3 separate regions of the Homo sapiens genome follow, and regions 2 and 3 are each linked to region 1. Evidence: fine-mapped expression QTL. A gene starts in region 1. Each other region holds a variant in brackets. All regions are shown on one strand. Distances are from middle to middle.

Evidence for each region.
Region 2: its variant is fine-mapped to the expression of WDR1 in testis (GTEx, PIP 0.99).
Region 3: its variant is fine-mapped to the expression of WDR1 in whole blood (TOPMed, PIP 0.99).

The regions. Positions count from the first base shown.
Region 1 is chr4:10,111,014-10,121,700 of GRCh38, reverse strand. It overlaps WDR1 (WD repeat domain 1), which reads left to right and starts at 4,902. Exons shown (of 15, transcript NM_017491.5): 1 at 4,902-5,050; 2 at 5,467-5,588. The coding sequence starts at 5,035. LOC124900666 (a long non-coding RNA gene) reads right to left here and starts at 4,612. Exons shown (of 2, transcript XR_007058030.1): 1 at 2,483-4,612; 2 at 2,224-2,374. It also overlaps the pseudogene RNA5SP155. RefSeq lists enhancers at 3,401-3,490, 3,571-3,670, 5,441-5,590, 5,241-6,045, 7,878-8,378 and silencers at 4,591-4,710, 4,721-5,130, 5,211-5,360, 9,822-10,116.
Region 2 is chr4:10,088,249-10,098,935 of GRCh38, reverse strand. WDR1 (WD repeat domain 1) reads left to right here. Exons shown (of 15, transcript NM_017491.5): 5 at 1,045-1,225; 6 at 10,195-10,272; 7 at 10,563-10,643. Among named protein-coding and RNA genes, the nearest start is that of MIR3138, 15 kb to the right of the region's middle. RefSeq lists enhancers at 2,215-2,704, 2,109-3,308, 3,886-4,656, 6,971-7,741. The variant C/T (reference allele first, on the strand shown) is at 5,889.
Region 3 is chr4:10,057,480-10,068,166 of GRCh38, reverse strand. LOC124900665 (a long non-coding RNA gene) reads right to left here and starts at 4,153. Exons shown (of 2, transcript XR_007058029.1): 1 at 4,073-4,153. RefSeq lists an enhancer at 4,210-4,824. The variant A/G (reference allele first, on the strand shown) is at 5,153.

The DNA of each region.
Region 1 (10,687 bases):
CAGACCCTCTAGAGGACTCACTGGCAATCACTCCAACTCCCTGTGCAGATGGGGAGGTGGAGGCAGCGAGACTGGCTTGAGGTAGTAGATAAAGGTGATTTACTCCAGGGACACTCCGGAGATGAAACTTTGAATATGACTTGAGCTTATTTATGAGACAGGGACAGGCCTGCAAAAGGGACTGAAATTCCTGGAGCAGAAAGGCTTCCCCCACTATACCCAACAGTCCTTTGTGGAAAGGGCGGGGGTTCAGTCCACAGGGTGAGCTAGACGGGAGCAGCGCTACCCTTGCATAGGGCTCTTCCTAGGGGGTTGATACAGTTGAAGCAACAGGAAAGAGAAAGCCCCCTTTTCCTGAGCCTGGACAGAACCCATGAGGGTTGAAAGTGAGGAAGCAGCTTGACAGGCTTTGGAGAGAAATTCAGCTCTCCTGTGGCTTTGTTCCTCCCCAAAGCTTCCAGTATAGGCCTCACACATCTGACGTATTTGCAGTTTGTGGCTCTAGAAGCCAGGACTCAGAGCGTGCTCAGAGGACAAGGTGCATTCCAGGAATCCACACGCCCCCACTGTTTGCGTTACATAAAGCGTTCAGAACCCACTCCAAACTTGTTTTCCCCTGAGTGGAAAGCTGTTAAACAGCTCATTTAGCACCTGACGCCAGTTAGCGGTTTGCCCAAGTTACCCAATTGGAGCTAGTTTACCCCAAAGGTAGTCGAAGAGTTAAGTATCCTAAGCTGCTGCTGCTTAGAAGTTTCAAGAACACATTGTTGCCACTTTAGAATTAAGTTCAGGTGATACTTATGTTGCTCGCTCACACAGCAAAAGGAAGAATTGCCACTGTCTGAAAAGCACGCAGGTGTTCATAGATCTGGCACACCTGCGTTCTGTTTCCAATTGTCTGGGTGGGCCCCTGCAACAAGTGCTCGAGCAACAAGGTCCCTGCTCTCAATCCCTAAAAAGGGGAGAGTCGAGACGCTGATGAACCCCATAGTCATAAGCAAACCAGTGTGCAACAAAATGGGAGTATAGCTTGAGGGTGGATTGGCCTTAAACTGAGGCATCAGTGAAGACCCAGAGACAGGTGCCAGAACAGAATGACCCAGGAGACTTGCTCCTTGAGCCAGGCAGAGCCTCAGCATGCCAGTGTCTCAGAAGCCCAGGGAGGATGTTCGGTCTCAAGATAGAAACCTAGGCTACCCAAGGCTCAACAAGCTTTTAAAGTTTCTCTGGCTGCAGTAAGGGGCTCCAAGCAGATACAGATTAACTGGTCAGGAAGAAATTAGAATAACCCAGGTTAAAGAGCACCAAAGCAGGGCTGTGGCTACAGAAAGATTTGATACAGAGGTTCTAAGCAACTAGATTTAGTGAAGGCTTTAACCTAAGTGGGGGGTGAGATTTCTGGTCAGTGCAGCTGGAGATGCAAGGACGCTGGTCACTATCGGAAGCAGCACCCCAGAGAAATCAGCAGGGAAGGGGAAGGCAAATTAGTCTTATTCTGGCTGTCGTTCAGTGCGAGTAAGGGGCCTTTCAGACCCTTCCTACGGAGCTCCAAGTAGACAGGTTCCAGAAAGGGCCAGAGAAGTAGCTGGGTCCTCAGAGATGTGAACCACTGGTGTATGCAGACCTCAGGATCCCCATCCTATTAGAGAGTTATGACAGCTGAAAGCAACTCAAGTATATCCTGGCAGTGACCCTTACACGCTTGACACCTGATAGCGGCTTAGCCACACCTTGGGAGTGTAGGTGTACCTGATCTGTATCAACTGCTTTTTGAAGCGCAGTTCTGTCCCAGCTGGCTGCTCTGGACCACTCTGTATTCAAGTCCCCTCCATACACCATATGTGTTCATTGGCTCTGGGTCGCCTCGGCTTCTCGAACATGGTGCCATCCCTATTTAATTCAGTGGGGGCCCAACACAACAGGATACACGAAGGCATGAGTGGTGACTAGGGGAGCCCAACGAATAGGCTAGACCCACAGTAAAGACGGTTCAAGTGTTAAAGCTCCCACAGCTGACAACACCAAACTGAGCTCGCGCCCCACAGGGAAAATCCTGGAACACCCTGGTGTTTCCCATTTTCCTTTCACATCCTTCAGATTTCCTGCCACGTTCATATAGACTCAAGTGACTACGAACAAACAGCTCCCCCACCACCACCATAAAGCCTCTGCAGCTCCAACATGTAACTTTCAAGCTAAAAATAAGCTGTAGAGCCCAGCAGCTGGGAGTTTGGATATGTTTTACTCAAGTTCGACTGTTTAGTTTTCAGTGTCAACTCCAGCAAGGCTTTATGCACGAGTGTAAAGGTTACCAGCTTGCAAGAGCTTGAAGTTGGTCCTTCGTTTTCTTAATCTTGTTACACGAATGCACTACCTGTGAATGCAATTATACCATTTGTTTTAAGGGTCTCAAGGTGATTTGATGAGTTCTAAGTTATCAAAGCAGATGCAGCGGCCTACAAGCCGGGCCTGCGTATCTTACTTTAGGAATCTGTTTTGTACATTCTCCACGGCTCCTCAGTTCGCAGAGCTACTTTCATATCCGTTATTTCCTGATTAACAGTTGTGGGTGGGGAGTGGGGTCATCCCTAGGAGCATCTTCCAGGTGTCAGGGTTATTCCTGAGAGTTAAAGTTAGGGAACGCGGGAATGAGAAGCAGTGTTTGCAAGGGGTTGAAGTTGCAATTTAAAATGAGACCGGTGACACTCATCAACTAACATTTGAGCAATTAAGTACTTCTGAAGGACACAGGAGTCAGCCAAGTAGATCTCAGGTAAGAGTTTCAGGAAAACACCCTCCGAAGCCAGTACCCAAGGCAAAGATGATACAGATGAGGGGAGGCGGACAACGGAGTCTAAGTGACCCGGAGACTGTCATCCAGGACCCTAATGGGCCGTTTTCAAGACTAGCTTTTACTTCATGAAACTTGGAGCCCCTACAGACAAGCTGAGGAATATTTTACTTCGGATGGATCACTCAGCTACCTGGAGAACACACAAGGTTAGGAAGAATAGGAGACAGGCAACATGGCCACTAACCCAGGTGAGCCACGAGAGACTGCTCTACAGAAGTAGGTAGCAAGAGACTAACCTTGATACAACCTTAAGCAGAACAGACCTTTCAGAGAAGCAGGAACCGCTCACAGCGTGGGTTTCAGAGTTTTTAGCTACCCGCAAGTACTTTGGTTTCTCCCACTTTTACCACCCTCCTAGCCCCCAGAGCCCCAATGGAAAACTTGTACCCACGCTACTGAAAGACGAGACTAGAAGCTTGGACACTTCACATTCCCTGCTCTCCCTTCCACAATTGAGCCACTGCCCTGGTTTTAGAAGTGGGGCTTGTTTTGCTCTGAAGTAACCCTTAACGTCCTTAGAAGTAGCAGCTCCCCTACCCCTCTCCCCACGCCTTTGCCTTTTAAAAACCTTAACTTTTGAGAGAGAGAAACAGCACAAGTTCAGGCCCAGCAGAGTAACCCCTACGTTGTTGCCAGCAACTACTTCAAGGGCAGTTAACCGTGCTTAAAGACGCCAAAAGCATCCATCTCCCGCTTACAACAACATTTAGCTACCCCCCACCCACGTACTTTGCTTTCTCCCACTTTTACAACCCTCCCACCCCCAGAGCCCCGAGGGAAAGCTTGTACCCATTCTACTGAAAGATGAGACTAGAAACTTGTACACTTCACAGCGCCTGCTCTCCAGCTGAGCCACTACCCGGGTTTTACAAGTGGGGCTTGTTTTGCTTTCTTAGGAAATAACCTTTAACTTCCTTAAAAGCAGCAGCGCCCCCACCCCCACTTTTGCCTTTCAAAAGCTAAACTTTTGAGAAAAAGCACGAGTTCAGGCCTAACAAAGAGTAACCCTTACGTTCTTGTTGCCAGTAACTACTTCAAGAAAAAGCACTTAACCGTGCTTAGAGAAAGACGCCAACAGCATTCCTCTTCCACTTACAACAACATTCAGCTACCCGCCCGCACCCCGCCAAATACTTTGCTTTCTCCCACTTTTACAACCCTCCCAGCCCCCAGAGCCCCAAGGGGAAAGCTTGTACCCATCCTACTGAAAGATGAGACTAGAAACTTGGACACTTTACAGCCCCTGCTCTCCCGCCACAACTGAGCCACTACCCTGGTTTTAGGAGTGAGACTTGTTTTGTTTAGGAAATAACCTTTAACTTCCTTAAGACCGACAGCTCCCCCATCCCCCACGCCTTTTTTGCCTTTCAAAAGCTCAACTTTTGAGAGAAAAAGCACGAGTTCAGGCCCAACAAAGAGTAACCCCTACGTTCTTGTTGCCAGCAACTACTTCAAGCAAGGGCACTTAACCGTACTTTAAGAAGACGTAAAAAGCATCCCTCTCCTGCTTACAAAACCCGAGCAGGAGGACTGGCGGCTGGGCAACGCCCGGGACCGGTCAAAAAGGAGAGGCCGGGGAGCGCCCGCCACGCAACGCGGTCACAGGTACAGAGAGGTTTTTCCAGACCCCCACCAAAGCCCGCCAGTACTTTCAGCGTCTTTAAGACCCCCCCGCAAATAAACTTCCTACAGCCCAGCTTCTCCTACAAGCTAGCAACAGAAAGGCACCCACCCCCCGACTCCCAGAAGCATTCTGACGCGGCTGCTTGTCTGCGCCGCCTTTTCAAGGGCCCGCGGGGCGTGCTATACGTCACTTCCGGGGCGGGGCGAGCAAGGCGGAGGCGGGGCCGGGGCCGGCGGGGGAGGGGAGCGCCAGGTCCGCGCAGGCTCGCCGGGACCGCAGCCGCCGAGCCGAGCGCTTGACTATATATGGTCAAAGCTGGGGGCGAGCCGCGCGCGGGACCGCGCTTCCGGGTTCGGGGCGTCCGCAACCACAGCGCGCAGGGCAGGCGCGAGCTGGCCTCTGAGCCCCGGCCTCGGACCGCCCACTCCACTCCCGGCACGCCCGGTGCCGCCTTCCGGCTCCAGTCCCCGGGCTCGGCCTCGGCGAGGTGTAATTCGCAGCGCGGGCCGGCCCCGGAGGCTCTCGGCGAGCGCGGCGCGGTAACAAGTGGGCGAGGATGCCGTACGAGATCAGTAAGTGCCGCGGCGCGGGGCCCCCGAGCGGCCGCCGCGCTGCCCCGGCCCCGGTCCCCGGCCCCTAGGCGCCGTGCGGGTGGCGGGGGAGTCCTCGGCGCGGGGGAGGGGTGCGGGCGCCGGCCGGAGGCGTGGCGGGGCCGCCCTCGGTGGTGCAGGGCGGGACCCCCGACGGGGGGTGCGCCCCCAAGTTGGCGCCGTGGGCCGAGCCGGAGGAGCCCCGCTGCCCCCAAGGGCCTGGCCCGGGGCGCGGACCAGGAAGTCGCGCGGTTCCTGGCGCTCGTGGAAAGTGGAGGCCGCCCTCCCGGCGCAGTCAACAGGTGACCGGCCGAGACCGGTCCGGGGCTCCTTCTCCCTTCTGTCCCCGCCGTCCCCGCCCTGCCCTGACATGCCCCGCCGCATTTGTGTCTCCGCAGAGAAGGTGTTCGCCAGCCTCCCGCAGGTGGAGAGGGGCGTCTCCAAGATCATCGGCGGCGACCCTAAGGGCAACAATTTTCTGTACACCAATGGAAAGTGCGTCATCCTAAGGAACATCGACGTGAGTACCCCCTACCCCGGGCGCGGTTCTGCTCCGGAGCCACCTTGGGATGGGATAATTCGCCTTCCTCTCCACTTCTCACCTCCTGCCCATTGGCCCGGGGAGGGTGAGGGCGCCACGCCCCCTCTACCGGGAGCCACACCTCGGAGCCCCGGAAGCCGGCCTCAGATTCACCCAGGTCCTTGTCTGCTCCTTCTTGATGAGGAAACTGAGTCTTAGTTCGTTTCTGTCTACGGTCATAGCACCCTGAAAGCGCCGGATCGCCTCTGATCTTGGAAGCTAAGCACGGTCAGGCCTGGTTAGTACGTGGATGGGAGATTAGATTAGTTCATTCCTTAAAAGCAAGGGCTCCGGATTTGAGGGATCAGACTGACCCGGTCGGCCGCTGCGTGACCTTGAGAAGATTGGCGATTTGGGCATCTCTGAGCCCCAGTTTTCTCGTCTGTAAAACAGATGATGAGATGATGACCACTCTCGCTTCGCCTGCTGGCTGGGCAGATGGAATGAATGAGCTGCTGGCGTCCCTCAAGCCCAGCGGTGCCTGGTGCACTTTGAGCCCTTGCTGAATGGAATGGCACTCAGCTAACTCGCTGTTAATACCCTGGTCTTCCAGTATGGCAGAGCCCGGAAAAACACCCGGGCCTCTGGGCCAGCCAGATCTGCCACCATGGATCTAAGCCCCAAAGCAAAAACAGGAAGCAGTGTTTTCCCATGAATCATTCTCTGCAAGCCTCCGGTACCCAGGCTGAAAAGGCTTCTAGAGCCAGCTCCTTGGGAAATCCTTGCAAATTCATGTTATTCCTCTGTAATTGTTGGGGTGACCCAGTCTGTCAGTCTCCCTCCCTTCCTGGGTTACACGCTTAAATTTTGCTTTTCCCTTCCTCAGCCTGAGTGATGGAATTGGTGGGGTGGGAGTTGGAGGTGCCGGCCCGGCCATTGGGTGATTTCTCCTGTGCTGTGCTTAGTGGGGGCGGCTGGCACAAAGATGTATGTTTTGATTGATGCCATAGGCATACAAGGGTTGTCAACTTAAAGTCAGCCTGATTTCCCTTGGTAGGTTGGGACTGTTGATCGGACACACTTGCCCTCCAGGAGGCCAGCAACTGGCTGAGGGAATGAAGGGGTCTCTGGGTCTCAGTTTCCTTCTCTGTGAAAGGAGAAGCCTCTTGGTCCGAAGAGCTGCTGGCTCTGCCCGCATCTGTCTCGTTAACCCAGGCAGTCGCTGCTGTTCCTCTGCTGGAAGACAGAGCTCTACCTGCCCTGGATTGCTGGGCCCCTCAAATGAGGGGGTGGGCGGGTGTGAATGTGCTTTGAAGGTGCTAACAACTTGCTAGTCACACAGATTCCTAGAAAGCCGAAGGGCCTTGCTTAGAACTGGAGAAAATCACCAGGGATCTAATGGTAATGATCTGGAAGTCTCCGAAGGCAGGTCCTGAGGCTTTTGAGAAAATAAAAATTGAGACAACCCTAAAGAGATATTTAGTAGTTTGGCAAATAAAATCCACTAACACGTCCTCGGATACAGAGCAGTAGGATATTTCGTTTTGCCCCTAACCAGGCCTTCCCTGTCGTTGCAGTCCACATTGACTTCCAGGGAGGGGGCCTCACATAAAGTACCTGCTGTGCATCTGGCCCTGTGATAGCTTCTTAAACTGTAGCATCTCTTTCCACCCCACATGGGTCCGTTACTCTAAAGAGGAGTCAGACTTAGCAAGGTGAGGCAGGCCAGTAACTGGAGCTGCTTCTAATGGAGTGGTCATTCAGGGACAGGCACCCCTTTGCAGAAAGCATTTCCCAGCTTGTGAAACCCATTCTGCCTGTTTCTGAGCTCTGTATTCTTACCCCTTCCCCGTGGTTTGCCATTTTCTTCTCAGGGGTTACCCTGTTTCCCTTCTCAATTATTTTTAAGTTTCTGCAATGCCAGGTCAGCACGAGATGCTACTAATATAGCCCTCCCTGGGCTGGATGTAGATCAGGCACTGAGTCTCTTGTTAGTTGGATGGGTGGACTGGGTACTCAAGTAAAGGTGGGTACGATTTTTTTTAGGGCAAAGTACTCTTGGAAAAAAAAGTGACATGAATTGGCATGACCGTTCAGGAAGGATGATGGTCTGTTTGGAATGCAGGCTCAGGGAGGGAAGAGGGAAGAAATGGAGGACCAGATCATGGAAGATCTAACATGTCTCATTGACATCTCAGACTCAACATACATACTCCAAGCCAAATTTGTGTTTCCCACGTGCTCTTCCCCTAAAAGGGAACACCGTTCCTCCAGCTGTTCAGGCCCCAAACCTTGGACTCCTGTTTCACTCTCTGCTTCGCTACTGCGCCACATTTTAATTTTAGTAAATCCTTCTGACTCCACATTCAAAGTATCTTCAGAATCTAACAGATTTCCCTGGCTTCCTCTGCCTCCACCCACGACTAAGCTATCTTCCCCCACCTGACTTATTGCCCCCAGACTCCCGAAAACCAAACAGGTCTCCTTGCTTTCACCCTTGTTGCCCTGGGGGTCTGTTCACAACACTCGCTGGAGTGGCTGAAACACAAGACAGGCCTCTAGTGGCTTCCCACCTCGGTGAAAGCCAGAGTCCTTACCGTGGCCTCGGCTCCAGCGTTCTTGCCTCCTTGCTGCTTCTTGAACATGCCACACATCTGTCTTGGTACCTGCTAGTTATTGCCTTTGCCTGGACATTTTCTCAGATAGCTGCAAGTCTTGCTCCCTGTCTTCTCTTTGGTTTTTCTTTTTTAATTTGAGGTGGAGGCTTACTGTCGCCCAAGCTGGAGTGCGGTGGCGTGATCTTGGGTCACTGCAACCTCCACCTGCCGGGTTCAGGCAAATCTCCTGCCTCAGCCTCCCGAGTAGTGGGGACTACAGGTACGTGCCAATTCACCTGGCTAATTTTTGTATTTTTTAGTAGGTAACGGGGTTTCGCCGTGTTGGCCAGGCTGATCTTGAACTCCCAACCTCAAGTGATCTGCTCGCTCGCCTTGGCCTCCCAAAGTCCTGGGATACAGGCGTGAGCCACCACACTAGGCCTTTCCCTTTGGTTTATACTTAGATGTAGTCACCTTAGTAGAGGGGTGTCCCCGGAATAGAATTTTCCATCCCCGGCCTTCTGTCTTTCTCATTGCTGACAATAAGTAGGAAGCAAGCTAACAAGCAGCAGGCTACGGCTGCCTACAAGTGTACATAGGTATCTGCCTGTCCCCCTAACTGGGCATCAGCTCCAGGCCAGCAGGGCTTTCCCCTCTCTTTCAGTCACTGCCGTGTCCTCGCCTAAGAGAGTGTCTGGCACACAGTAGGTGCTCAGTGAGTTACTCATTGATTAAAAAGCCTGGAAAACCAGGCTGTGTCGTGAAGATAATAGGCAGCCACTGAGGTCTTACTGCATGAGAACAAGGAAAGCTCAGCTCAGTGTAGATTGCCGGACCTAAATTTTGTGGAATCGCCTTTCATACCTAAGAGGCGAGCACCGTTGCCAGCTTTGCACTTGGAGCCCCCTCTGTCATTTATTTTGTTGACTTAAAAGCTGTTTTGTGAACCCAGCATAATGGCACTTCTTAAACTTGTAGAAAAAGGGTGTTTCTTACCTGTTTATTTCAACACATCTCGTTGCCTCACCTGGAGAGGCAACTCTCCTCTGTAGAGTGAAAGACTATAATGGTGGCCATGTAGAAACTAATATTCCAGAAGGAGAGAGCTCCAAGAAGGGGATTCCAGTGAACCATATGTACACTGTGTTTGAGAGACATTAGTTCCCCACGGAGAAGGGATGGATAGTCTGTGCTTCGGGGGTCTAAGGAAGGCTTCCTGCAGGTGCTGGTACCTCCTTAGGTCTGGGGTGGTTCCTTCTAAGTTTCCTTACCCTGCCTGCATCACCTCTGCCTCTTATGACCTCTGTGCAAAGACTGGGAAGGGTCACCCCCAATGGCTGTGAACGAACCTGTTTGTGATTCTAAACAGGGCACGGGACCATCCTACAATAAAAATTACCCAGCCTAAAATGCCAGTAGTGCCAGTAGTCCCTGTTTAGAAAAAGAAAAAAAAAAAGCAACTTTTGCCTCACAACAGAGGCCCTCTTGTGTGCTGCCAGGCAGCCAGCAGATTTGCTATGCAGGCAAGTTTGGGGCCTGGTTTTTAAAGTATCCAGTTCCTAGATTCCAGAACTAAAATACACATTTGGAAAAATGATGTCTATAAAATTGAGTTTCCGGGAGTGCAAGGTTTATAGCAATTTGACACTGCTGGGAACCCAGGCGCAGTATCAGTGGACTTTTCTCCTTGAACAGGGGGCAGACCAAGTGGGGGGTTGGGGAGGGTATTGGGCTCACTCTTGGTTTCCCTTGGTGTGAGCTGCCACCATTCACATGCAGAGGACTCACCTGTGTTTCCTGCGGGTTGGGGGTAATGGTGGCATGACAGAGGGCTTGAGGACTGACCTAGCTGCTTCTCCGGAATTGGACGCCTGCTGACTACCTGCGTGTATCCAGATGGCCATTGGCCTGTGGGGGTGCAGGATGGAGGCCCTGCCCACATGGAGCTCACTGTCCTGGGTGGGAGTGAAATAAACTCTAGGTGGCAGAAGGAAGTGGTGCGTTGGATTATCACCTGGGTGCAAACGAGCTGGCAGCAGCGCCTGCCAGGTGCAGAGCCAGGAACCTCTAGGCCTTCAGTCTGACCACCTGATGGCAGGGGAAGCAGAGGGTGGTGGGGGGCCTTCATCTCAGGAGAATCTGAGTGGCTGCAGGTGCCAGTCAGGACGCTGGGCTTCTGCAGATGGGACCACATCTGGGAGGACCGAAGGGCCGGGTGCTTATGGGCTGTTACTGTGGCACTGAGCGTGAGGGGAGTGGACAGGACCCAGGCTGAGAAGTGCTGGTGTGCAGTGGTGGCAGGTGGCTCACACAGCCCTACCATAGCGCAGCCCTGCTCTGAAGGCCACTGGAGCCATTCAGAGGTCTCACAGACAAGTAATCAGATCCAGCCTACGGTAAGGAGAAGTTCTGTATCTGAGATCTGAGGCAGGGAAGCCAATTAGGAAGCTGCTCAAAGATGAAGGCGGCGTCAGCGCAGGTTCCGTTGCGTGGTGCAGCCAT
Region 2 (10,687 bases), 23 kb after region 1:
TGCTATGACCCTGGGAGGGGGATGCGCTGATGTCTGTACTAACTTGCACTCGTGAGGGTTGAGCTCCCAGTAGGTGCCGGGCCCCGTGAGGGCTGGCTGCAGCCCCAGGTAAGGTAGAACTCCACATCACACTGGGTTTGTCACCAGGGCCCAGCACTCATGTATCTCCTCTGACGTCCTGAGTGCCTTGCCTGCTAGAACCCCAGCTCTCATGCCCACCTGCAGGCAGCAAGAAGGGGACAGAGTGAAAGAGCAACAGCACTTCTATTCGGGGTCCCTCACAGCAGCTGCCCCATGAAGCTGCCAGGGAGGCTGAACTGTTTCTTCCAGCTGGGCACCTCCCCCAAGGGTCTCTGATGGAGGAGGGAGGGGCAGTGGATGCTGGCTGGGTGGCACTGGGTGGCTACTGACCTCAGGGGCCTAGTGACTGGTGAGGTTGGTGCCGAAACCCAGGTTTTTTTAATTCAAGAGAGTCAGAGTCCCCCCTGCAGCACCATGGCTGGCCATAACCCCTTGAACTTGACAGTGGCATGTCTGTTCTTCACTGAATGGCACTTTCTCGTACATGTTCTAGTAGGTGTTTTTCCATGGCTTCTCAAGTCATTCCTGTTGGTCTTAATTCCTTCTTTTTTCAGTAGCAAATAGTAACTAAAACAGTGTTTTTGTTGAATGTCAGCCAAGAGCAGGGCATCTCATTCCTGTAGGGGATGGTAACTGTTCCCTCCCAATAGAACTGTAAGGAGAATGGTGAAGCTGTAAAGATAGCCCTGGGCCCTGTGGCGTGGGGCCCCACAGACACACACATGCATCCCCTTCCCGAAGGCGCCGGCTTGCCCCATCTTGTTCTTGGGTCCTTTGGACAAATGCCTTGTGGAGCCAGAACCCCAGTGCTTCCCTCATTTGTCCCTGTGGCGTTCTGAGCTGCCTGCTGACAGTCACTCCATCCTCTGTGCACTGGCAGCTCAGCTATCAGATTGCTTACCAGCCTTCTGGGATTGATTTTTTTTTTTTTTTTTTGTCTTCCACCTGTGTCATTGGGTCAAGGTTTGGAGCAGTCTTCCTCTGGGATAGTGGCTCTTCTGTGGGCGAGATTACAGGACACAACAAAGTCATCAACAGCGTGGACATCAAGCAGAGCCGGCCATACCGGCTGGCCACGGGAAGCGATGATAACTGCGCGGCATTCTTTGAGGGACCCCCATTCAAGTTCAAGTTCACAATTGGCGTAAGTGAACTTACTTTTTGGGTGAAATTTGTGGTTTGTACATGAGGCTAGCAGAGGCTGAGCCTGTTTAGATGCTGATGGCAGAGACCACAGCACATGCCACGTATGCCATGATACACAGAAGTGGGCTCCCAGGGGTGTGCAGAGAGAGGGAGGGCTCCCCCACCCAGCACTCGTCCTCCCCAGGCCCTCAGCTGGGCATGGATGGTTCCCACAAGGAAGGGCCCTGCCCTAGGATGATGTGTGCCTGTCGGGGATTGGGGCAGGAATGTCCCTGACCGTGTAACCAGGCAAGCATCTGGGGCTGGAGGTGCTCATTAGAGAGGGGAGCCTGCAGGGCCTGCTGTTAGCTGAGCCACCAAAGTGGCAGAGGAAGGGAGCTTGCGGGACATCCAGATTGGTCTCTCCTAGAGACAGTGAGGGCAGTGATGCGCCTGCAAAGTGACAAACGGTTAGAAGACTGAAAGATACTTTGTGGAAGAAATGTGCCAGAAATGCGGCAGGCTTTGGGTGTAGCTGGCAGCATCTCAGAGGCCCATGCCGTGCATGCGCCCCGCCTTAGGCACCCAGGCCTTGCCAAGCCTCCTCACTTCTCCCTTCTGCAAGACGGGGGTGTGCCGGGGCCAGCAGCATCTGAGGGTTTTGACTATGAATTTGAAGTAGGAGAGCCACCTGGCAGGTCTGGAGCATCTGTGATGCCCATTTTCCTGCCCCAGCTTTGTAGGAGTGAGGGGAGGAGCCCAGCAGCCAGTCTCAGCACAACCCCACGGCTCTGCCCTGGCTTTCCCCATCCCGCTTGTGCTTGCGCTGAGGATGGACAAGAACAATGGACCCGGAAATGCACATTTTAGGGACTGTTGATGTCCTTGGAGGAGGTTGTGTTTGCAGATTGGACCAAGTTCTCGGGACTCCTCTTGGAACCGTCAGTGGTTTCACTGTCTGCCTCATGGAGGATTAATGAGATCATGTCCTTAAAGTGGCTCAGTGAGGAGCACTGTCCATTTTAGTGACATCATGCCATGAATCATAAATAGCCTGCGCAGTGCAGCTGGAAAGGGCGAGGACGGGACCCACAAAGTGAGCAGAATTTCCAGAGACTGTTCTTGGCTTAGGGTACAGGAGGGGGCTTTCCAAGGATGCCCCGTTCGTAGTGAAACAGGCTTCATTTTGTCACGGAACCGCAGGCTGAGCTGGGCCTGGCTGGGCAGGTGAAAGCATAGGGAGGCTCCCTGTATGCAGCTGAACACGCGGCAGCTCTCAGACTCTGCTCTTGTGGCTACCACCTAATGGGTAGGTAGTGGAGACCTGGCTATTTTGGGAGCTGTATTGAAGGCTGTGGCTTCAGGCCATGTTTCTTCGCTAGGGTGGAGGCACTGCAGAGCAGGGTGAGTAATGCTGAGTCAGCTGCACACCCCATCTCAGCCCAGGGCAGGAGGAAGCAGCTCAGAGACTTCTGTGGTAGCTAGAAGCCGGCTGTGGGTGGGGGCTCCTTGGCCTGCCCTGGGAGGGATCATTTCCACTCTGCAGCTGTGCATTAAACCCAGCACAGGGTGCTCAGCAGGGTCAGGGGCACCAGTTTGTTCCAGGGGTGGGCTGGAGCCTGTCTTCTTCACCAGGCTGCTGTGCCCCTGTGTGCTTGCTTGGGGACTTGTCCAGAACATTCTTTCTCTTTAGTTGTCCTTTCTAACTTCAGAAAGGACTTCACCCCACTGCCCTGGCCCAGGAGTGTTGGGTACAAATGTCTGCCCAGCTAGCCCAGCTCCAGGGTGGGTACCACCATGTGTCTTGAAGTCTTTTGTGGAACCCACAACCATGGGCCCTGCCTGAGGACCTGGGAGAAATAGAAAGGGCTGTGGCCTGGCACAGAGCTAGGTGGCTGTGCCCCCCTCGGGTGAGTCATGCCTCTGGGCCCTCCCGGAAACAGGGTGACAGTGACCCTTGCGTGCTGCACCCTCAGCCACAGGGAGGGTGTGAGAGGCAGCAGTGACCATCCACATGCTCAGGAGACATGTGCGGACTCAACTGCCCACGCATAGGAAGGACAGGAAGGGTGCTCAGGGACCCCACACCTGCCCCCAAATACCTTCTGAGTTGCAGATACACTTTGGTGTGTATCTGCACTTAAGCCCTCCGGACCCCAGAGGAAAGCTGCGGTCGTGCTCTCCATGACCAACCCCAAGACAAAGGGAGCGCGTGCAGGCTGGGGGAAGTGAGAGGAGGTGTGAGTGCTAACATGAGGCCCAGCCACAGTCAGCTTTGAGGACATGGTGGGCTGAGCATCGCTGGGCTTCCTCCCGTATGTGGGCTCTTCTGATGTGGTCGGAAAGCCTGGGATGTGGAAGTTCTCAGGAATTAATTGAGCCTGTTATAGTAAAAGATTTTAAAACCATATGTGGGCATTTTTTATTTTAGAGGGAATTAAGTTCCACTTGCTGTGAAATCCACATAGCAGTGGTCTTTTTTCCCCAGATCTTTCATTCTGCAGCACATGACGGCTGAGTCTGGGCTGCCTTTGCCTCCGCACCAGCGCTCAGGCCTTGGTGGCCTTGCCTGCCGCCCCTCGCCTCCTGAGAATGAGCAGCTGTGGTGGCAACTCGGGCCTGTCTTCATCTGCGCCTTCTGCACCCACTCCCTGCAGAGGCCCCCTGTGGCCGGGACCAGGAAGCTGCCCTGAGCTTGGGGGTGCAGCGCTGGGGTGGCAGGTGCTTCCCTAGTTACCCAGGTGGGAGAGGGACTGGCGTATGACTGCGGAGGGACCAGCTGGGTCGTGTTGGAGCTGCTGCCTTGAAAAGGAACAAGGCATGTTCTGAAGGCGTTTCAGTACAAGCTGAAGCAGAACTCCATGATGCTGTGCCTGAGCTGAAATGCAAGCAGCATTCCCTGTGTGCCCCTCGTCCTGAGGGACCGTAGCCCAGCTTTGGTCTTCATTTGCCTGAATGAGGCTCCAGGAAGATGGGAGTGGAGGAACATTTGGCCTGGAATAAGCCTGGGTGCCGGCTCATTCCTACCCAGTGACATTGAAGACGCGGTAGGTGACCTGCGGAAGTAACTTCCGGGGTTACAGGAGAACGGTTCTGAAAGGAGACCCTGGGCACCGTGGTCTCGGGTCTCCAGCACTGGCATTTTGCGAACCCAGGGGTAGGTTCCCCTCAGAGGGTCTGACCGTGGCCTGAAAAAGGGAGGGTGGCGAGACCATCTCCCTGCCTTCCCCCATCTCACCCATGGGGATGTCTTCATGCCAGGCAGGCTCCTGGGATAGGTACTCCTGGATGGGTTTAAAGGCCCCACTGAGTTTCTCTCTGTTGTCTGCCTTCGCCATGCGCATTACTTGGGCCAGGTTCTTTGCCTCTCTGGCCATCCGCTTCCTCCGGTCGGGTGAGCAGTTGGTTTGGTGGTCTAGGATGACCACACGCCCCCTCTGGAGTGTGGCTCACAGCTGTGTGCATGTCCTAGGTCCCAGGAGTTGGTGGTGCACTGGATAGTTTGTGTCTAATGAAATGGTTACTTAGAGCAGCATGTCGTCCTGGGGGCTCAGCCTTATGATGCAGAACTGAGAACTCACTGCCAGATCTAACAAGCTGTGATTGTAGGTGGAAAAATGTTCAGCACGGAAGACTTCTGGCTTCCCTCACTGGGGTGCCACTGCTCCCTCTGTTCCATTGCCTCTGCCCTGCGGGGACCTCATACCTCACATAGTTCTCCCACTTGAGGCTGGAGCCAAGCAGGGCTGGAAACCTCAGCTGTGGCTGTTACCGGAAGTGCTGCCTTCCTGATAGATAAGGAAAATTTGAGCTCAAAACAGGCAAGGTTTCTGGTGGTTTTTCTTTTTCATATTTCCTCACTCAAGACAGGGCAGAGAGCAGATGTTTCAGCCCTTCTGGCATGTATGGTGGCTGCCTGGGCCATGCCCCTGTGATGGGCATGCAGGACCGCCTCCCTTGTCTTCAGCACGCGCCACCCCTCCTGTCGACTGGCCTTGCTCTTCACTGGGCTGATGGCTGACTCCTGAAAACTGGGGGCTGACAGCAGGGAGGGTGACCTGGCCCAGGTCACATGGCCAGTAGGTGCCCCAAGGACGGTTAGTTAGGATGAGCCTCTTGTCCCTTCATATGGTCCTTGTTCTCCAGGGAACATGGTGACTGAGCTGACCCGTCCCGGGTGACGGGAGAGGCAGTTGGGTGGGTAGCTCCTTCGTGCCCCTCAGCCCAACTAAGTGGACCGGGCTGCAGGGCTGCCCCAGGGCACTTTGCAGGGAAGTTTGCTGCGGGGGATGGGTGGGCTGAAGGATGGTCCAGAGCCAGCCTCGCAGGTCACGGTGTAAAGGTGTTTTGGGAACACCCATTGACCAAGGGTCGTGGAGGCCCGTGCTGGGCTTGTGTGGGGTGGGACTGGGCACAGGGGACCGAGAGCCTGTCCCCTTCTACCAGCTCATAGGCATGTGAACAGCCTAAGGGTGGGCTTGTGGTCCTCTTGTGTACAGGGTCAGCTGAGGCTGGGGGGAATGGGGTGGGCTCCCAGAGGGTTCCTGAGCTGACTAGGTAGGTAGTGAGCATGTGTGTGCTGGAGACAGGCCAGCTGGGGCCTGCAGCGCTCTGTCGCTCTGTGATGTTGACATGGGTGTGGTACTTAATTATGACCTCAGTGCTTCAAGCCTCGGTTTCCT[C/T]GGTGGTGAGAGGGAGCATATTGGTGGGAGGGAGTGAGGACTGTGGGGAGGGGGGCTCGTTGATACAGGTCAGTCTTGGCTATGTGTTGGCTGCAAGGGAGGACAGGCAGGAGTGTGGACCGGACACCGTCAGTTGTCCACCAGGGATGAGGCTGGACTGAGACTGCTGCAGCCCCGCTGGTTGGCTGGGGTGGGGCAGAGGCAGGGGGCCGGTGAGGGCAGCCTCAGGAAGCTGCTGCCCCTGAACTCCCCGGGAGGTTCCCCAATCCCTCTCCCTCTTTGTTCACTGGCCGGGCCTCCGTGTGGAAAGGGCTATTTTTAGCCCTCGCTTTTTTTGGTTAATGGGCTTTTCGCGGCTTCTCTCTTTGAAGGGGCTATTTCAGGAGCAGACATCAGTGTCTGCATTTGGACTCCTTGGCTCGAGGTGCAGGAAAAGGTGATGGGGATGAGCTACTCGAGGGGCATCTGTGTCCCTGGACTGTGCCGGGCCCCTCCCTTGCCCCTGCTGGGTTCTGGGGCCAGGGAGGGACACATGACACCACCCTGCCAGAGCCTGTGGGAGGCGTCGGCAGAGGTGAACCACAGACTTGGATTTGGGGTCCTGGGGTTTGCGCGAGCAGGAATGTCCTCGCTTCTGGGACCTGGAACTGGAGTAGGAATGTCCATGTTTTGACCTCAGGGAGCCACTGAAATGGGCACTTGTGACAGGTTGGAATTGAACAGTGGCTGATTAGTTTCCTCCATTTTGTAGCAAGAGCCATCAGCGTCCACTGTCCCACCCACTCATCTGGGCTTGGGTGATTCGGGCATTTGGGGTGAGCTCTTTTCTCTTAGTTCTTAACTCATTCGTCAGAAGGACCCAGGGGTCAGCCAGGCCCAGCCATCTCCCTGGCCCACTGCACTTCAAGGAAGCTCAGGCTGGCTTGGAGGAGCCAGTGCGAAGTCAGCGGCAAGGCGAGGCTGTGCTGGCCAAGGAAGCGGAGTTCGGCAGCGAGAGAACTCGATGTGCTGGTCAGAGGTCTAGGATTCGAGCTGTGGTTATGTCATGGTCAAGGTTGTGTGGCCTCATCTGGAAGGAGTAGTGGTGCATACACCCCTGTCCACCCCCCGCCCAACAGGGGGTCTAGAAGTGCTTTGCCTCAGGCCCTCCCACCACTGCCTTCACTGCAGCCGGCTCCTTCCTGCAGCTCTCTCGGGAACTGCCCTGTGAGGCCCTTTGACACAGGGAATGTGGACCCTATGGACTGACATGGACAAGGGACCGTGGGCCATGTTGACACAGATAGGAGGTGGACCCCATCGGCTAACCCCGACGGGAACAGGCCCTCAGTGCATGACGGCTCCCTCATGGTGGGTAACAGCAGAAGGGGGGATGCAAATGGGCCTGCGGAGTTAGGGATCTGACCTCTGGGATGACTCTGGGCTGGAGCACCCCCAGGCTTGCTGAGCAGCTGCCCAAGGCCCAGGAGCCAGCGCAGCTGAGACGAGAGCTCTGGACAGGAAACTGGAGACCAGATTCGTGCAGGTGATGTGGCTTTGAGTTACCCGCTGCTCCAGGCCTGGTGTTCTCCTGTGAAGAATTTGCCCGCAGGCTCTCCATGGCCCCTCGGGGGGTAAAGCGTCTCTGGAGGGCCCTGGAGCCCCATCTGGAAAGTTGGTTTTCACTCTCAGCAGCTGAGTGGATCGGGCCTTCTGGGGAAACTGCTTTCCCCAACTTCACATACCTAGAAGTGCTAGAAAACTTAGAACACAGACCATTTAAGCAAAGAAGACCAGCCTTAGAACTAGTGAAAAAGGTACAAAAGGAACTAAAGAAGCAAGATGCAGAACTGCGCTTAAACACAAGGAAGGGTGACCTCTAGCACCATAGCCAGAGACGACCGTCCAGTCCTGTGTTCCCCGTTCCATCTCCTAGTGAGCCCTGGGCCCGCCTGGGTACTGCACGCCTTGTAGTTTGGCACTGCCTTGCCTGGCCAAGCCTTGCAGCACCCAGGTGCGGGGGGCAGGCAAAGGGCTCGCCAGCCCCATCGCTCATGAGCTGATCACAGACCTGAGCCCAAGTTCAGACTGAGCCAGCCTGGTGCTTCCATCCCTGTCCTCTTGGGCGGTGACCACAACCTACAGAGGACGAGCTCTTCAGTCATAGAACGGAATGCAAGCACCATGACAGCACTCCCTGAAATGAGGCAGGGAGGACAATCTGCTCATCCACTGGGATGGAAACGTGACTGTCGTCGCCCTCAGTAGCTCCCGAGGAGCACTGGGACTCCCCTTGTCAGAATGTGTGATTTCTCCGGCTTTCATCTAAGTTAAAACACGGGTCAATGAGGTGGGAGATCCTGGTTCAGGTGCAGGGCCAGGGCCTGCTGGGCCTGTGTCCAGCCTGACCCCAGCCGTGAGCAGGTCTTGGCAGCACCCTGAGGAGGGCTTACCTGAGGCAAGCAAGTTTGGGTTGTTGGCTGGAGGAAATGGTTTAATCTTTGAAGTGCAGGAAGCCCAGGGTTGCTTTTGTGCCACAGGTCTGGGGTCGCATCACTCTTGGGCCTAGAGAGATTTCTGGGGCGGGGAGTGGCCTCTCTACGAGAACTGCCTGCCCTGGGGACATTGCCAGACTGAACGGTGTCTGTATCTTCTGCTGACTCTGACGGACTTTGTGGGGACATCGATTTCCTTGAGTGTGGCCCTTGGGACCCCCAGGCACCTGATTCCTCTTTCTGGGCCTATGTTTCCTCATTGGTGAAATGGGCACAGCTCACCTTGGTGGGTTATTACATGAGTGTCAGAGGCAGCATTGATGACATGTGTTAGTGTGCCGCAGCTGCCATAACAAAGTTTGTTAAGCCACAGATTGGGTGCCTTAAACAATGGAAATTTATTCTCTGGAAGTCAGAAGTCTGTAGTCAAGGTGTGGGCAGGGACGCACTCCGAGTCCTTCCTTGTCTTTCCCAGATACTGACAGCCCTGGGGGTTACTTTTTGTGAGCAGAACTCCCATCTCTGCCTCCAGCTTCACCCCAACTCTGTATCTGTGTCCAGATTTCCCTCTTAAAAGGACACCAAGTCCTGCTGGATTTACAGCCTGCCCTAATGACCTCATTTTAACTGGACTGCATCTGCAAAGACCCTGTTTCTGAATAAGGTCTCATTGGGTCCCAGGGTTGGGACTTCAGCATGTCTTTTGGAGAGGCACAATTCAACTGAAAACATTACACAATCAAACACAGGCAGGTCCCCCACACAGGTAGCTCATGCTTTAAAATTAAGTCCGTGATTTACTTAGAGCGCGGGGCAGCTTATCCGCCTTGGGGTTGAATTGCTTTTCCTGAAGGTTAGTGTTCGTACCTGCTGAGCAGCGAGCCCTTCCTGTGCCAAGAGAGTTGTTAGCACTGGATGTGCATTTGCCGGGTTAGCGCCGCCTGCAGGTGGGCAGCAAGAGGGCAGGGCAGGTGTTGGCAGCTTTACAACTGCTTATTTAAGGATCAGTCTCTGATACAAACTCTTGTTGACTGCGGAAAGAATGCATTCATTTCCTTATTCGAGTAACAGAGTCGCCCCTGGAAGTCATGTCATTTCCTTTTAGTCGCTCAGGCTCTTGTTCTTGATGAAGGTCATAATCATTAACTTTGTTTAAAAGTTAATTATTGGCCAGGCGCAGTGACTTACTCCTGTAATCCCAGCACTTTGGGAGGCCAAAGCGGGGAAACATGAGGTCAGGATACTGAGACCATCCTGGCTAACAAAGGGAAACCCCATCTCTACTAAAAATACAGAAATTAGCCAGGCGTGGTGGCGGGCACCTGTCGTCCCAGCTACTCGGGAGGCTGAGGCAGGAGAATGGCGTGAACCCGGGAGGCGGAGCTTGTAGTGAGCAGAGATTGTGCCACTGCACTCCAGCCTGGGCAACAGAGCCAGACAGGGCTGGTGCCTCCAGGAAGAGGCCTCCTGGTCTCAGCCATCGTGAAGCTTAAGGATTGGGGCTTGAGCTCTTTCAGAGCCCAGAGGGAAGAGGGCAGCTGCTGGGGGCACCTCACTGGGGGGGGCATAACTGGAGGTGGTCTGCCTTCGCTCGGGCTAATCAGCTTTCCCAGCAGGTAGAGCGGTCAGCATGGCAGGCAGGCTGGAGCAGACTCCTGCCCCTCCACTAAGGGACTGCCCAGGATGTTTTTTTAAGCTCTGAAATTTTCCAGTGGACTAACAGTTCACACTGATGAACAGCTGGAGCTGCAAGCTGTGTTTCATAGAGAGCATTCTTGAACCTAGAGTCAGGCCTGCGGCCCCTCATCAGGCAGGTAATTGTTTTCCTGCAGGACCACAGCCGCTTTGTCAACTGTGTGCGATTCTCTCCTGATGGGAACAGATTTGCCACAGCCAGTGCTGACGGCCAGGTAAGAACTGGGATGGGTTTTGGGGTGGGGAATGGCTTGTCTGCCTGCTCCCGTGACTGCTCAGAGCCGCAGGCTGCCTAATGCTAGTCCTGACATGCAGAACTTAGACATCGCCCTCCCCACATCTGCAGACTCGTCGTCAGAGCCCAGTAAATGCATGTCTGCTTTTAAACCACACTGGGAGCTTAGTCTGTGAGCCCCGGTTTTCTACAGCCACAGTCCATGGAGAAACTGCTTACTCCAGAGGGTGTTCACACACACATGACCCACATGTTTTTATTTCTTGGAAGATATACATCTATGACGGGAAGACTGGGGAGAAGGTGTGCGCGCTGGGCGGAAGCAAGGCCCACGACGGTGGGATTTACGCAGTGAGTATGAGCGTGTTTCCCGGCCTAGTGGTGGGAATTTGGCC
Region 3 (10,687 bases), 54 kb after region 1:
TTACCTATCAAACAATTGAATATTATATCAATAAATTATGTAAATATTAATATTTTAATAAATAGCAATACAAATTAATAGTTCATGTGATTAATTCTTAATCAGCTAATTAATTTTAAAAGGAAAAAAGAATCTTAGATGAAACATTCCAGAGACGTCCCAAGACATTAGATACCCTATGCCAAGGACGCACGTTTTCTTGTCCCATGAGCCAGGCTAGCCCCAGGGACCCTAAACTGGGTCTTTTCACTTAGATTCTGTTGCAGCATTTTGCGATTATAACCTGATCTGGTACAATGACCATTCCACTCTTCCACTCCCCTATTTATTTTTTTTAAGAAGGATAAAAACCTCCTTGCTCATCATACTAGTGTCTTACATATAAATGGCTATCAGGGTTTGTGCCTTCATAGGGACTTGAAGATGGCAAAGCTGTTCAGTCACACAACAAAATCGGTTGTCCCCACAGGCCCTGGTGGGATGTCAGCATTATCCTTTCCATGTTTTGGTGTGGGAAATGGAATTGCAGGGAAGCTAGGTTTGGAGTAACTTGTATCCCTGGGATGATGGAAGTGGCTGCAAGACAAGAAGCCCGGTTCATAGCCCAGCATCCCTGATGGACGGGCCTCACTGCTACTGCAGTAGGACAAAGTAGACTCTGAAGGGGCTTCGCAATAGCAAAAGGAAGCAACCACAGGACTTGCTTTGGTGGCCTTGAGGGAGCCAAGATGGCCGCAGTCAGACACATTTAAGCTTGCTGCAAGCAGATGCGGGCTGAGTGGCCAGTATAAACTGAAGTGCACTTTCGGGGCCCACCTTCTACGTTAGGCACCATTTGGACACTGCCATAGAGATGTGTGTTGTCTGATGAAAAAAGCACTACCCTTGTGAACAGAATAGCCTGGGGTCCTGCACCTGCTTCTCACCCACTGATTAACCTTGGACAAGGTAATCACAGACCCTGAACCCCCATGCATAAAATGGCATGACACGCCCCCACCCCAGCATATGCCACCAGGCTGGTGAGATGAGGAAAGCCACATTTGAGGGGAGTTTATTAGCTAGGGTGGTTTAGGCACACAGGCAAGGAATGAGTTCTTAAGAACGTAACTGAGGGCTCGTGCTCTTGTATAAGAAATACTTCGTTTGAACTAGTGCTGCCTTCACAGAAGATCACATCATGCAGCCAAAAAATTAAAAGGATTGTAAGGGATAATGCTGGCTGCAGCCGTCAATGTGGCCCCATTGAGAGCAGGATGAGGACGTTTACAGATGGAGACAGACACCATTTCACTGGCAATTGAATTAGAATCATCAGCTTAGCTCGCTTCTGGTCCCATCACAGATTAATCTAAATGGCACCCCAAGGAGACATCATTTTTTAAGCAGTTTGGGATTAGAAAAGGTCACACTTCTGAGAACGCTCCAGAGAGAAACACAGTGGTACCATTGTCTTCTGAATTCTAGCTTACCCTGATTTTGTTTGTACTGCATAAAGTCAGGTCAAGCAGTATGCCTCAAATAACTTGGATTTTTGACAATTACGCCTTCTTTCATGGCTGCCTTCCTGCCCTCCCTCTTTCTATTCCTTTCTCTGTCCTACCTCCCTCCCTTTCTTCTTCTTTCAATTACAGCCTCTAGTTCATTGGATTTGGAAACAAAATGAATATTATTTGAAGATTGCAAAGTATTCATCAAAACTCAGGTTTTGCCAAATTAAATGGCCGCAAACAAACCACAGTCTTTGCCCTGGGAGGAAAGCTGCCTTGATCACTGTCTCAGCCACAAGAAACAAACACATTCTTGGGTTTAGCTGACATGTCCCATAGAGACCTCATCCGTTTCTTCACTTTATGGCACATGGATGTACTAGTTATTTAGCTTTTGCTCATGTAACTTGTAAAACCTTCTCTAAGTGGCTTAAAAAAACTTCTTGGGTCCCACTCTGTTGCCTAGGCTGGAGTGCAGTGGTGCGATCATGGCTCTCTGCAGCTTCAAACTCCTGGGCTCAAGGGATCATCACATCTCAGCCTGTCGAGTAGTTGGGACTACAGGCACGCACCACCATATCTGGCTTCTAAGTGGCTCTTGCTCTTTTCAGTTATTCCTTTCTTTTCTGGTTTTTTTTTTTTTTTTTTTGAGATGGAGTCTCGCTCTGTTGCCCAGGCTGGAGTGCAGTGACGCAATCTCAGGTCACTGCAACCTTTGCCCCCCAGGTTCAATCAATTCTTGTGCCTCAGCCTCGCCAGTAGCTCGGATTAACAGGCACATGCCGCCATGCCCAGCTAATTTTTGTATTTTTAGTAGAGACAGGTTTCACCATGTTGGCCAGGCTGGTCTCAAACTCCTAACCTTAAGTGATCCGCCCACCTCAGCCTTCCAAAGTGTTGAGATTATGGTGTGAGCCACCGCGCCTGGCTCTTTTCAGTTTTTCAGTCTTTGCTTTCAACTGGAGCACATTCTCAGCAGCAGCTTTTGCTGTAGCAAGCAGTGTCAACAGCATCCCTCCGGCAGGTGACTTCCTTGAGTTGGCTTCCTCAACCTCAGCACAACCAACTACTCACATTTCAGGTGGGACAGTTCTTTGTGTGGGGGCTGTCCTGTACATTGCAGGGTGTCAGCGGCATCCCTGGCCCCCATTAGATGCCAGTAGTACCCCCTGCCCCAGTCGTCACAACCAAAAATCTCTCCGGACATTGCTAATTCAGAAAAGAGTTCCTTTTTATTTTTAAAGAGCTAGGTTTTTGTTGCTGTTGTTACAACTCTGTGATCTTAACAGATTAATTTTCTTAGGAAGAAAAACCATGACTGAGATATTTAGCTTCTTCGTTATAATTCAAAATTCACTCAATCATTTATTCACTCATGTAATCAACTGTAGGGGCAGCAAAATTCCACTTCCATACTCTTAGGGTCCTGCTTGTGCTGGAGAATTTAACTGACATAAGACAGATGAACAGGAGGAAAGCATGCACATTTTTAAATACAAGTTTTATGTAGCACAGGTACCCTCATAAGGAAATAAAGTCCTGAAGAAGTAGTCAGATATACTGAATTGGACAAATAATAGTAAGTTGTGAAGAAGCAACTAAATGATGTGGGGAGGCTTAAAAGGTAAGAGTTATTTGCACAAGGTTGGTACAGAATTCTTTCCATCTTAGCTTCTCATCTTTGAGAATAAGACTGTTGCATCTTTCACATAGGGATCTCATCTTTTGCTTTTAACAAATGGCATGAAGGTCAGAGTGATCTTCTTGCATCTGCTATTTTTCTTTTTCTTGTTTTTTTTTTCGAGACGGAGTCTTGCTCTGTCACCCAGGCTGGAGTGCAGTAAAGCGATCTCCGCTCACTGCAAGCTCTGCCTTCCGGGTTCACGCCATTCTCCTGCCTCAGCCTCCCGAGTAGCTAGGACTATAGGCGCCCACCACCCCGCCAGGCTAATTTTTTTTTTTTTTTTTTTGTATCTTTAGTAGAGACAGGGTTTCACCATATTAGCCAGGATGGTCTCGATCTCCTGACCTCGTGATCCTCCCGCCTCGGCCTCCCAAAGTGCTGGAATTACAGGTATGAGCCACCGCGCCCGGCCACACCTGCTGTTTTTCAAGTGGCTTTAACTTAGTGTCAATATGCCCGAGTGGTGTAATTTCACTCCTTCAGAGCCAATGTTCATTGGTCATTAACTAGGCCCAGACACCTCACTTGGCTTTGGGGACACACGCAGCTTTGAGAATAAAACAGACATAGGTTGTCTTGTGTCACTGCATTTATTTTATTTTTTAAAGACAGGGTCTCACTCTGTCACCTGGGCTGAAGTGCAGTGGTGCCATCATAGCTCACTGCAGCCTCAAACTCCTGGGCTCAAGTGATCCTTCCACCTCGGCCTCCCAAAGTGCTGGGACTACAGACATGAGCCACCACACCTGGAAATTTCACTACATTTATAGAGCAGTGGAGAAGAAGGTAAACAAGGGATTCCAGAAGTGCCACGTTGGTAAAGAATGCTCACACAGCTGTGGGAGCCCGATGAGGGACATGAGGTCCAGCCTGGCATGGATAGGAATTATCATCCTACCTTTCTGGTTTCCATGAGGTCCTGATGTACAGAGCATAGCATACTGCCATGTCCTTGAATGCCCATTTCCCATTCCTCCTGCCAGCCTTGATTTAGAAGTCCTTCTCCTGCTTTCTGGAGGCCTGCATTGTCTCTGGTGTCTGAGGTCCCTGGTTGCAGTGCTCAGCTTAAAACAGCAGAGAGCAGCTTCAGATCATGGCTGGGCAGAGGCTGAGTCAGCCTGCAGGATAACTGGCTCCTAGCAGAGGCGCTAAGGAAGCCTGGTATGGGCCAACGGACCAGGCAGGCCCTCCTTCCAAGCCTCGGCCAACAGGAACCCGTTTCCTGGCTTTCAGCCCTCAAAGAAACTGCCTGGGTCTGTTTTGAAAGATCTCGAGTTGGCTGAAAGGGACATTTTCCCCATGACTGGCACTGGTTGTCAAGCCTGCTGGGCCCAGCAGGAGGAATGCCATCTCTTTTATCTCACCTTCTTTGTTAAGAGGATGGGCTGGCAGGGAACCGCTTTGCAATTATCTTGTTTAAGATGAGCAGAGGAGATAGTTGCTCCCTGCAGGGATAACCCAGGTCCCCAAGCCATCTCCTTTAACCAGCAAATACATGAGCATTATTCTAGCTCATGGCCAGGGTGGGAGGAGGCTTGGTTAACTGGACACGGTGGCCTGGCGCCTCACTCTCCCTATCAAATCCTATCAAAGCTTCTCTGTTCTCAGCTTCTTTCTCTTGGGCAAAAGAGGTAAATTGCAATAATTTGTTCCGAAGGGGTGCTAATGGGTGGCACTCAGTTGATTTCTCATTCTCCCCACTTCCCCAAATCACTTAGCTGGTATCTCCGTATAAACAAGCCCTTCTCTACTTGAACTGAGGACTAAAGGAAATATATTTGTCCATATAATGGGGCTTTTATCCAAGAAGCATTTCTCAAAGTGTGGTCCAAGACCACCCCTATCTGTAACGACTTATAAAAATACGGATTTCCTTCAGCTCAGCTACATTGCCACAAATGACAGGATTGTATTCTTTCTCGTGGTCAAATTTGTATTCCGAGGTGTATGTACACTTTCTTCATCCACTCATTTGTTG[A/G]TGGACACAGGTTGATTCCATATCTTGGCTATTGTGAATAGTGCTGCAATACACATGGGAGTGCAGACAACTCTTTGGGAAATGGATTTCCCTGCCTTTCCTTTGGATATATACCCAGTAGTGGGATTACTGGATCATATGGTAAGTGAAATAAGCCAGGCACAGAAAGGTAAATACCACATGTTCTCACTTGTATGTGGAAGCTAAAAACGTTGAGCCTATAAAAGTAAGGAATAGGTTGGGTGCAGTGGCTCATGCCTGTAATCCCAGCACTTTGGGAGGCCAAGGCTGGCAGATCACGAGGTCAGGAAATCGAGACCATCCTGGCTAACAATGAAACCGCGTCTCTACTAAAAATACAAAAAATTAGCCAGGCGTGGTGGCACGCACCCGTAGTCCCAGCTACTTAGAATGCTGAGGCAGGAGAATCGTTTGAACCTGGGAGGCAGAGGTTGCAGTGGCTGAGATCACGTCACTGAACTCCAGCCTGGGTGACAGAATGAGACTCCATCTCAAAAAAAAAAAAAAAGAAAAAAGAAAGAAAAGTAAAGAGTAGAACTGTAGCTACTAGAAGCTGGGAAGGATGATGGGGAGAGGAGGATAGGGAGAGGTTGGTTAATTGTTACTAAATTACATCTACATGGGAGGAATAAGCTATAGCATTCTATGGCCCTGTAGTTGATAATTTGTTTTCATAATGGTTTCAAATATGAGAGAATTTTGAATGTTTCCAGCATAAAGACATAATAAATATTTGAGGTGATGAATATGCTGACTACCCTGATTTGAACATTATACCTTTGTTTACATGTATCAAAATATAATATGTGTCCCATAAATATGTACAATTATTATGTGTCAATTACAAATAATTTTCAATTTTAAAAATATGGATTTCCACTGTTTGGCAGCATCTACTAGAATTAGACATATGCCTATCCTGCACCCATCAATTCCATGGCTAAGAATATACAGGAGAATGGAGCATTTATGCCCAGCCAAAGATATGGTTAGGAACATTTGAGCGGCACTGTTCAATAGCCCCAAACTGGAATCAACCTAGACGTCCATCAACAGGAGAATGGAGGAGCAAACAGATTGTGATTTATCCATATTGGGCAATAAAAGTGAAGGAACTACCAATACAGTCAACATGATTCATCTCATAAACATGACATTGAGCAGGAGAATCCAGACATAAGAGTATCGGCTGTGTGATTCCATTTATAGGAAGCTCAAGAACAGGCTCAACTACTCTGTAGGGCCAGAAATTAGAATAATGTTACCTGGAGTGGGGCTGGGAGTTATTGACTGGGAAGGGGCATCAAGGAGGCTTTTGGGTTATTGGAAATGGTCAATATCTTGACCTGAATGGTGGTTATACACGTACTTATGTAAAAATGCACTGAGCTCTATACTTAAGATCTATAAACTTTACTATCTGTAACACACACACACGCGCGCACCACGCACTTCCCAGCCTTATTCCAGACCTACCAAACCCAAATCTCTCTGCGAATCTGCATTTTGCATCCCTGGTGGTGCCAATGCACATTGACTACCAGGGTTGCAGGTGGTGCGATTGTGAGGGGGTCATTTTGTCAACCCCCAAATCACACCAAACCCTATTTCCCATCTGGGGTGGAACATCACAAGATTTTCATACGTCAGTCCCTAAGGGAATAAGATTGGTGTGAGATTTCCCACCGGTTAAGATTATGGACAAGGACCCTGTGAACAAGATTGTCACAGTCCCTACCAAGACAGAAGCCACACTGTTATGGAAATATAGTTAGCCAACACTTTCACTTCCTTTCAATTGAAAGTTTAAAACAATTACTTCTATCCTTCAAACTTTTTGTGGACAAACATGTATTTTAAATTTAGAATCAGTCTATATGTAATGTTTGATCCTGTCCCTTTCTCTGTGTCACATCATCCCATGTTCAGCGTTATTAGCAAGAGGAGGCAGGACACGTTTGTCAAGTGTCTGGAATAGGCAAGACCTCCTGTATTTAGTCATCTCATTGGAGCCTTAAAACAAACCTATGAGCAAAAATACTAGGCTCATAAGGATTAAGCAACTACCGCAAAGGTACACAGCAAGTAGGTGCATAGTGGGGATTTGATCCTGATCTAACACCACAAAAAACTCTCTGGTGCTAACAGTCTACTACAGGATTCCAACTTTATTTTGTTTTAACTTGTGGCCATGAGTTACCTCTGTCATTACAAACTATGAGTAAACCTCATCTTAAAATATCTGCATCTTACCCAACTAGTAAACCATTATTTAATTATTCCCCTAATTTCGACATTATCTCCATGTTTGCCAATCAAATGTCTTGGTAAATGTGTTTTAACATAAACCTTGTATTTAGGATTAATAGATTAGGAGAGATTATTACAAATGGAATAACCAGGACAAAGACTATGCACATTTGAAAGACAGGAATAATTTTACTGAACTGCTCTCCAAAAATATTCTATTAATTTGTGTTCCTTTCAATGGTCAGCCTGTCTCATCCCACCCTCATCAACTTAAGGCATCATAACTTGAAACAAACTTTGCTAGTATGGCACTGCAATTCAATTTGCATGGGCGAGTTTGGTCGTTTTTTTTTTTTTTATTTTTTGTTTTTTATTTTTTTTGAGACAGAGTCTCACTCTTGTCCCCTAGGCTGGAGTACGATGGCACAATCTCAGCTCACTGCAACTTCTGCCTCCCAGATACAAGTGATTCTCCGGCCTCAGCCTTCCAAGTAGCTGGGATTACAGGCGCCCGCCACCATGCTTGGCTAATTTCTGTATTTTTGGTAGAGATGAGGTTTCACCATGTTGGCCAGGATGGTCTTGAACTCCTGACCTCAGGTGATCCACCCGCCTCAGCCTCCCAAAGTGCTGGGATTACAGGCATGAGCCACCGCACTCGGCCAAGTTTGATCATTTTTAATGTATTTATTATTCGGCTATGTTTTTCCTTACGTAAATGTCTTAGACTTTGAAGTGTGAACTCTTCATATGTGTATTCAGGAGCTGGTACTATTTTATATTTGTCATAAATATGCCTCATGGATTAAATTTTGTTTTCTAATAATGTTTACGTTGCTGACTGGTAAAATGACTTCAATCTTTGTGTAGTCAAATCTATCAGTAAATTTCTTCATGACTTTTTATTTCTTTTAAACTTAGAAATCTTAGAAAATTAATTACCAAGTCAGAAGAATATTCACGTTTATTTTCTTTTGTGTTGTGATTTTACTTTGTCCTTATCCATCAATCAGCCATGAATGTGGAAGTGTGTGGATGTGTGACACTGTGTGTATAAGTGTGTGTGTGTGTGTGTGCAGCCACAAGCACACTGTGAGGTGAAGATTCAACTAGATATTTTTAACTTGCTACTTCATTAAAAAGTCTTTTTTATAAAAACTATGATGTCACAAATAATTTATAGTAATTTTTCAAGATATTTTGTCATTACTATTTTCAAGGTCAATTTCAAAGTCACATTTTCAAGTTAAAAATTACCCCACTGACCTTTTAAAAAATTGCTACGGTTACGTTTGTGCTTGATACTCATATTTTCAAAGCAAAGCATATTCTATTTAGTGATACTTATATAGGTATTAAATCTATAAAGAAAAGCAAAGGAACGATCAAAACAAAAATCAGGATAGTGCTTGCTTCTGGGGAGGAGAGAAGGAGCTGTGATTAGGAAGGGTACATGAGAGAGTCTAAAGTGTTGGTAAAAGTCTATTGCTTAACTTGAGTAGTGGCCATATTATTGATCTTTGGTGAATAATAAGATAACAAATAATTTAGCAAATGAAGCAATAGATGTTTATAATCTCACATTTTCTGTGGGTCAGGACTCTGGGCACAGCTCTCTGCAAGGCTATAATCAAGATGTTGGTTGGTTGGGCTGCAGTTTTATCTGAGGCTTAACTGGGGAAGGATCAGCCTCCAAGCTCATGTGGTTGTCAGCACCATTTGGTCTCTTGCCTGCTGAGGACTGGAGGCTGCTCCTCAGTTTCCTGCTACGTGGCTACCATATAAGGTGGCTTACAACATGGCATCTTGCTTCTTTATAGCCAGCAAGGGACAGAGAGTCTCCAGCAAGACTCATGCTACAATCTTTTTTTTTTTTTTTTGACTGAGTCTCTGTCTCCCAGGCTGGAGTGCAGTGGCGTGATCTTGGCTCACTTCAGCCTCCACCTCCCAGGTTCAAGCAAATCTCCTGCCTCAGCCTCCCAATTAGCTGGGACTACAGATGCGCACCACCACACTCGGCTAATTTTTGTATATTTTTAGTAGAGTCGGGGTTTCACCATGTTGGCCAGGCTGATCTTGAACTCCTGACCTCAAGTGATCCACCCACCTCAGCCTTCCGTGGTGATGGGATTACAGATGTGAGCCACCGCACCCAGCCAAGACTCATGTTACAATCTTATGTAACGAAACACATAATCACATATGTGGAACACATACATCCCCTCACCTTTACCATCCCCCGTATGACTAGAGGCAGGTCACATGTTCTGCCCACACTCACAGGCAGGGGATCCCAGAACACAAGAGTTTCAGATTTCAGGGGCTCTGTGTTCATTTACATGTGTTTGTTTGGTAATTGTACATATACATTTGATACGTATTTCTAAACCTATGATAGGTTTCACAATTTAAATATTTTAAAACTGTGACACAATTATTGTAACTGATTAATTTAGATCTGAGTGCACCCACATACATCCAAGCAAAAAGGATCTCACTGCCATTGATGGCTGAGTCTGAAATAAAATCTAGAACTGACTCAGGTGCCCAGGATGACTGACTCCTCATTTCTGAGATATTGGCAGTTGCCATGAACTCAGAAGGCACTCTTTATATTGTACTTGGAAATTTTCAAATTGTTTAGAAATTACTACCATGCCCAACTTTGATTTGGAAAAAAAAGAGGAATTCGTTTAATCTATAGGTAATTTAAAAAGAAATACAATTTTTATAATACTTATGATGTACACAGACCGTATCTCCAAAGGTTGAATCTTCTTTGACCCCTTAATAAAGTTTAGTAGTTTTATTCATTCACGTACTACACCTTTCATGCCAAATTTTTCCTATATTTTATTTTTGTTCCTATTGTGAATGGGCTCTTTATTTTTAGATTTCTGTGGACTGGGGCTATTAACCAGGAACATGACTGAGTTTTGGATATGCACCAAGTCTCTTGCCACTGTGCTAAACTACCATTAATTTTCCAAGAGTTTGTTTTTTGTTTTTTGTTTTTTTTTTTTTTAGGGTTTCTACGAACACAATGGCAAGATCTGGAACCTATGCCAGTTCTTGTTTCCTCCTTTTCAGTGGCCATAACCTTGATTTACGTCTCAGGGACCCAAGTTCCATAAAAAGCTTTAGCGGTCAGAGTCATACATCTCAGACTGTCAGCATCTACTCCAGGCCAGTCGCTTAACCTCTCTGTGCCTCAGTTTCCTCATTTGGAACGTGGAGCCATCATGGAATCTTCCTCGTTGAGTT